2 linked regions of the Homo sapiens genome follow. The protein of the gene in region 1 purifies or fractionates together with the protein of each later gene. This does not show direct contact. Each region holds a gene or a part of one and is shown on either strand. Other genes may lie near its edges. The genes, in order: HMMR and MAPK1.

Region 1 (3,821 bases):
GGATTGATATTAGCAATAAATATATATATATAAAATTTACATATATTTATATGATTTATATGTTCTGATACAATAAAAATTATAAATAAAACATATACACTTATAAATTATTTATCTATGTGTCTGTCATAATGTATCACATGTGGGAACAGATCACTGGGGAAACAAGGTACAATTTAATGAATTAAATTAAACTAGGCAGTTGGTTGTCCATAGGGAAAACAAAAAATGAATTTGATCCCTATATTGCTACACACACAGAAATCAGTTCTAGGTGGAAAAATGGAAAGTGAAATTTTAAGACTTTTAGAAGAAAACTGGTTGAATATCTTTACACCTTGAGATAGAAAGAAGTTCTTAAATGAGAAGCAAAAGTACCCACATACAGATAAATATTTTAACCATATTGAAATCAAGAATTTCCACTCATCAGAAGAAACCAAAAAGAAAATAAAAAAATAAGCTAAACTGGCAGAAGATACCTGTAACCCATATGGCTGATAAAGAAAACCTCTACAAATCAATGAGGAAAAGATGATAACCCTATAGACAAATAAACAAAAGTCATAAACAAGCATTTTATGGAAAAGGAAAGATGAATTATCCACAATAAGAAGCCATTTTACACTAAGTACACTGGCAAAGTTTAAGAAGTCTAACAAGCTTTGGCAAAGAAGATAAATGGAAACTTATACAACACTAGTGGGAGTGTAGATTCTTACTCCCACATTGGAAAGTGATTTGATATTAAGTTTTAGAGTTGAACATTCATATACCTTTGGCTTTAGAGAAATTCTTACATACATGTATTCTTATAGTCACAAAATAACTAATAATAACTAACCAAATGGGAAACAACTCAAAGTCCAAAGAATGAATAAATAAGTTGTGGTATATTCATACAATAAAATACTCATAGCAGTGACTATCAACAAACCATAGCCTCAGACAACACAATTCAATCCTGAAAACACACATAATGCAGAATGAAAAAATAAGTCCCAGGAAACGGCATATACTATGATGACATTTTTTGGTAAAGTTCAAGGAGAAGGAAAATTACATAATGCATTATTTGTATGGATATACGTGTCATAAAATTATAATACACAGGGGGGAAAAAGCAAGGAAATAATTAGTGTAGACTTCAGGACAGTGTTATCTGTCCCATTTTCATGGGATGGCAGAGGAACTTACATATGGATACTAAGTTGTTGAAAATCTTTTGGCTTACTGGTTGTCTTTTATAGGTTCATGCATGTCAGTTTTATCTTCAAGCTCTACAGTTTATGTACATGTTATGCATTCTTTTGTATTTATTAAATAAAAGAAAGGAAACTCTCCCCCAAAATGAGCTAAAGTAAATGTGATAAATAAAAATGTTAACATTAATATATAGGTATTCATTATATTGGCCTTTGTAATTTGTAGTTCCACCCAAAATAAACTTTTTATTTAAGGAGAAAATAAGTAGAAGGCATGGGAGGTGAGGAAGTGGATATAGAGACAATCTTCTCTGTCAAGAGAAGAAAAAGGAGGAGAAGGAAAAGGACTGAAAAGGAGTAGAATTTGGGGTTAAGAAGGGAATGACTGGTGGTGTGAGACAGCTACAAAAGGAAGTTAGGGTCAGAGAAGTATTTAAAACAACTTATGTATTTTATTTATTTTTCGTTTGTTTTTGAGACAGTCTTGCTCTGTCACCCAGGCTGGAGCGCAGTGGTGTGATCTTAGCTCAGTGCAGCCTGGAACTCCTGGGCTCAGGTGATCCTCCTGCCCTCAGCCTCCCAAGTAGCATGTGCCACAATGCCTGGCTAATTCTTAATATTTTTTTTTGTAGAAACAAGGTCTTACTCTATTGCCCAGGCTGGTCTCAAACTCCTGACCTCAAGCAATCCTCCTGCCTTGGTCTCCCAAAGCACTGGGATTACTGGTATGAGCCACAGTGGCCAGCTAATTAATATATTTTACAGACAGATGTACATTAACATGTTTTAATATTGATTGGAAAAATTCCAGTAAAAAGGTTTCAAATTATGAGAAAACAAAATGATAGAATGAGGTCACTGAAGATTAAAAGACTAGGACATTTCATCTGTAATAGGTGGGAAGATAGGATGAGTATAAATGTGGGTCTCTTTATAGGTTTAGCAAGAGATAAAAACTTCTGAATTCTTTATGAAAATGATAACATCAAGAGAGTAGGGCAGAAGCACCAAATGCTTCTAAGTACATGACTTGATCCTCCCACCTCAGCTTATGCAGTGGCTAGGACTACAGGCATATGCTGCCGCACCTGGCTCAGCACATAAAAGTTGAAGTGGATGGTGAGAAAGGGGAATTTCTATAAATTATAAAGGGGAATTATATAAATACAATAAGATTACCAGATAATGCTAAATGCCCACTTACGGTTGGTGATTATGGAATTTAAACTAGTATGAATCATCCTTTGTGTGACTGCTTTGCTCACATATTTCCTGGGGTAAACACCCCTTTCTGCACACATCATATTTAAGAGTGCAGGCTCCCAAGAAAAATACCTTTCAAATTGAGCAGTAACATCTTCAAGGCTTTGCACCATACTGTCATACTTTTCCTGCAAAAGCAGGGTGGCCTGGGTATGAGCAGCACTACTTTTCTCCAGTTCAGCCTCCTTCCTAAGAAAAAGAAATAATTGAAAGATAAAATGCCACCTACAATTACTACCCTAAGAAAGAAAATAGTATTTACCTTTGAAACTGTGAATCATATAGCTCATATCTTCACCACTGCATTACCTGCTAAATAGCTCAGATCCTAATTTATGACTTACCTCGAAAGCATGTTTTTTATGCATTTTTCTACTAGCTTCAACTTATCTTTCCTGCTTATTTTACTTTAAAAATTTGGGTGAAGAAGGTAGTAGGATATAAAAGACTATAAAACCAAATCTTAAGATACTAGCCAGGACTAAAGACTGCAAAAGATTACCAGTCAAAAAACATCTGGATTGAATAAAGTTTCATTCTCTCCATTTAGACACTTGAGAAATACCATGAACAATTAAAGCCACTTCATTTTAAACTACAGAGTTACAAGACTTTGTGGATTTATTCTGATTATATGAATAACCCACATAATACTCTATTACTGAAAGACTTAATAACTTCTTTAATGGATTATTTTGCATAGACAGAATGGGTTTTAAGTCATTTTTATATACATATGCTATTAAATCTCAGGGATATTTTGGAAATAATATATTTCCAAAGTGGTGATAAAATTTTTAGATATGCATATGAGCTTATGAGAGATCTTTTAAAGAATATACAGAACTAAAAATTGTAAATAAGCATTGTGTACTTATAGACTAAGTTGGACACTGAGATAAGAAAAATAGCTGATCAAATTCATTCTGTAACAAGTGCCGGATTTCAAAAATATACACACCACAGCAAGAGCAATCAAATATGACTAAAGAGTTTATAATAAAAATATTTTCTTCCCTGTCCCCTAGAGGAATTATTTTCAATTCTTAGTTTGTTTTTCTCTTAAGCTTGAAATTTCCAGGCTAGAAGGGATCTTAGAGACCATCTAATAAAACTCTTTTATATCTAATGAAGTAGAAGATCAAAGAAACTAAGATTGTTTTGCTCAGAATCAACCAGCTAGCTAACAGAATTAGTAATAAAAATCCTTATCTCTTGACCATTGGACCACAGTTTTTTGAGTTGGAATAAAAAATTATCTCAATTTTCTTTCCTCTCTTAAAATGACATTATCTTATTTTCCCAAGATTCCTGTTCCCTGAGATTGGCTGTAGTATAGAACAACACCCCTAA
Region 2 (3,821 bases), on another chromosome or scaffold:
GTTCATTAGGAATTGTGACTATTTTGTTTAGAGTCCTTTCCTAATGATTATGTAGAGGATGTAAAGATGAAGAGTGGGATTTGAGTTGGGCCTTTAAGAGTGGGTGTGATTTTGATATGCAGATAATAGGAACAAGTGACAGCTTGAGCTGTGGAATCTAATCTTGGAAATGTACTTAGGTGGCAAACTGTAGAGGACTCCAAAGGCAAAACTAAGTTTGACTGTATATTTGTTCAGTGGAGGAAGCATCTTATTTATTTATTTATTTGTTTATTTTTTTTTTTGAGGTGGAGTCTCACTCTTGTTGCCTAGGCTGTAGTGCAGTGGCATGACCTCGGCTCACTGCAACCTCTGCCTCCTAGGTTCAAGCGATTCTCCTGCCTCAGCCTCCTGAGTAGCTGGGACTACAGGCGCGTGCCACCATGCTCAGCTAATTTTTTTTTTGTATTTTTGTAGAGACAGCGTTTTGCCATGTTGGCCAAGATGGTCTCAAACTCCTGACCTCAGGTGGTCCCCCTGACTTCAGCCTCCCAAAGTGCTGTGATTACAGGCTTTAGTCACCGTGCCCGGCCTTTTTTTGAAAGAGGCAGTCATACATGGTCAATTTTGAAATTTTTTGGGAAGACAAATCAACACTAGTGGGAATGAAGGAAGAAGAACCGGAGTGGAGGAATAAATTAGGAAAGCCTAACCACCTAGAGGTGCAGTAATAAAGTGGCAGCGGAAGGTAGCAGATGGAGGTGAGGAGTTTTGTATTGACAGAAATAGTAACAGGGACCCTTGTGGGAAGAGTGGTAAAAAGACTTTTAATCATGGCAAGTCTGAGTGGAATCAAAGGATTATGAGACCTTAAAGGGTAAGAGACCAAGAGAGGTGGGATTTGGATTTGGAGGGATTTCTGAGATAGAACAAGGCTTGCTGGTTGATTGGCTATGGGCGGTTGTTCATTCTGAGGCCTCTAGGTTGGGAGCCTGGGAGATGGTGGTGCCATTATCCAAGTAAAGGAATACTGTTAGAGCAGATTTGTCAGGGGGAAATAGTTCTGGTTTGAACTTAAGTTTGTAATGCCTGTAGGCCATTCAGGCTATATCCAGAAACCATCTTAAAATTTGTAAGAGGGGAGCAGGAGCTGGAGATGAAAATTTGTGTAAATGGTAGTTAAAATCTTGAGTGGATGAGCACAGATTCTTATCTGGGTCATTGGTTAGGTGAAATTGCAATCATGGCCAGGCGCGGTGGCTCACGCCTATAATCCCAGCACTTTGGGAGGCCCAGGTGGGCGGATCACGAGGTTAGGAGATCGAGACCATCCTGGCTAACATGGTGAAACCCTATCTCTACTAAAAATACAAAAAAAAAAAGTAGCCGGCCGTGGCGGTGTGCGCCTGTAGTCTCAGCTGCTGGGGAGGCTGAGGCAGGAGAATGGTGTGAACCCGGGAGGCAGAGCTTGCAGTGAGCCAAGATCGCGCCACTGTACTCCAGCCTGGGTGACAGAGCAAGACTGGGTCTCAAAAAAAAAAAAAAAAGAAATTGTAATTATATGTTTTCTATATTTATCTTTTTGGTTAAAAAATACATAGCATTTGATAGATTTTCAAATGAGTCCATTATCCTGGAAACATTAAGAACCACTGAAGTAGAACAGAGGACCAACCAGGTAACTCTGGCAAAGAAGAGGAAACTGATGACTGGTCAGATGTATAAGGGAACAGTGTAGACGGGGAGGAGGGAGAGGAGGAGAGATTGAAACACTCTTAGTATGCTTGGTCATCTTAGACTAAGATAGCAAGTGTCTATTTTGGTTTAATTGAGTTTGAAATGCTGTTTCTGAATGCGACAAGAGAGCTCATGGGGTCATCTTCATAGAGATATTAATTGAAGCCTTAAGAGTGGATAAGACATCTGAGAACTAAGCCAAAGGAGTGCCTGCCTTTACTGTGTCAATAAAGGTCAAGTTATGGAAGAGGACAGAGGAAATGTGGCCAGAGAGACCAAAGAACTGGGAGTGCACGTTATCAAAGGAGCCAAGGGAGATGGTACTCATTAAGGGATTGGTATTGAGTACTATAGGAGGGAAACAGAATGCAGCTGACAAGCCATTATATTTGTTGACTTTCAGCTCTTTTTTTTTTTGAGACAGAGTCTTGTTCTGTCGCCCAGGCTGGAGTGCAGTTGCACAATCTCGGCTCACTGCAACCTCCGCCTCCTGGGTTCAAGTGATTCTCTTGCCTCAGCCTCCCGAGTAGCTAGGATTACAGGTGTGTGCCACCACACCCGGCTAATTTTTTTATTTTTAGTAGAGACGGGGTATTGCCATGTTGGCCAGGCTGGTCTCAAACTCCTGACCTCAGGTGATCCCCCTGCTTCAGCCTCCCAAAGTGCTAGGATTACAGTGTGAACCACTGTGCCTGGCCTCTTTTTTTTTTTTTTTAAAGCGGGGATGTTCAACTTGGGAAAGCTGAATGAATAAAAGAAAAAAGAGGGGGATGGTTTCAACTAAAATTTCATTGTGATCACATTCCTGATGGTACAATGTCCTCCTGTCTTGTTAAGGTTATTGTGATTATAGCAGACTAGTAGAACTACCACTTTTTCAGCACTCTTGTTTTGTATTTTACATACATTAATGCTAAGCCATATAACTGTACAGCAAAAGTGGTAACTTCTGTTTGTTTTTTACCCCACAAGTGAAGAAACTTGAGGCACACAGAGGTTAGTTAACTTGCCCAATGACACACAGCTAGGAAGTGATGAAGCAACCCCAGTTTTTCTGGTTCCTAAGTAGTGCTCCACCAAAGATCAGAGTTGAGAAAATAGATTATTTCAGTAACAAGAAATATCTGTTGTCTGCTTTTGCTTGTATCACTTTTTAGCCTTTAAAACCTTTCATGTAGAGTTATTTACTCAGAAAATGTTTATTGAACTCTTCATCCAAATAATGGGATGGAATTGGGGAATAATACAGAGAAGATACCAGTGTTACCCAGGAGTTTGTGAAGTGCTGAGAGGAAGAGAAGAGCTGAGTGACTTGGGGCTGTCTTTCTTTGGCTTCCCAGACTTCTGAGCTAGGTGTTGATGTGTGAGTAGGAGTTTGCCTTGAGAAATGCCTTCTAGGCAAAGCGAAGTGTGCATGTAAAGGCACAGACCGTGAACACAGTGCATCAGGTCAGGAAAACCACAAATTACTTGGGAAGGCTGGAGTGTAGGGTGCCTTAGTAAGAAGGTGGGAGTTGAGACAGCTGGGGGTAGGCAGGGCCAAATCCTGAAGGGCATTATTTGGTAAGGACTTTGGACTTGATCTTGTGGGTGACGGAGTCATTAAAGGATGGCCCTGTTTCTGTCTGCCAGTTCCACTCCCACTTTATCTCTTATGCTTTCTGCCCATTTTGCCTACTTACTTACTTTTTTTTTGAGACAGAGTTTTGCTTGGAGGCTCACTGCAACCTTGCCTCCTGGGTTCAAGCAATTCTGCCTCAGCCTCCTGAGTGGCTGGGATTACAGGTGTGTGCTACCATGCCTGGCTAATTTTTGTATTTTTAGTAGAGACAGGATTTCGCCATGTTGTCCAGGCTGGTCTCAAACTCCTGACCTCAGGTGATCCACCTGCCTCGGCCTCCCAAAGTGCTGGGATTACAGGCGTGAGCCATTGCACCTGGCCGCATTGTGCCTACTTTATCTCGTGGTACTCAGTGGGGGTGATTTTACCTCCCTGCTACAGAGGCATTTGGAAATGTATAGGGGGGCGGCTTTTTGTTGTGTTGTCACGTTGATTAGGGGGTGTTATTGGCCGTCAGTAGGCATGTCAAGGGCAGACATGCTAA

The links.
Region 2: the proteins of HMMR (region 1) and MAPK1 purify together in Homo sapiens (affinity purification with mass spectrometry; 4 studies listed by BioGRID and IntAct, with this or other methods). This does not show direct contact.

What each region holds. Positions count from the first base shown.
Region 1 is NC_000005.10:163,477,520-163,481,340, reverse strand, and holds part of HMMR (hyaluronan mediated motility receptor), read right to left. Parts: intron 2,658-3,821; coding exon 2,541-2,657; intron 1-2,540. UniProt on the Homo sapiens protein: Receptor for hyaluronic acid (HA). Involved in cell motility. When hyaluronan binds to HMMR, the phosphorylation of a number of proteins, including PTK2/FAK1 occurs.
Region 2 is NC_000022.11:21,860,974-21,864,794, reverse strand, and holds part of MAPK1 (mitogen-activated protein kinase 1), read left to right. Parts: intron 1-3,821. UniProt on the Homo sapiens protein: Serine/threonine kinase which acts as an essential component of the MAP kinase signal transduction pathway. MAPK1/ERK2 and MAPK3/ERK1 are the 2 MAPKs which play an important role in the MAPK/ERK cascade.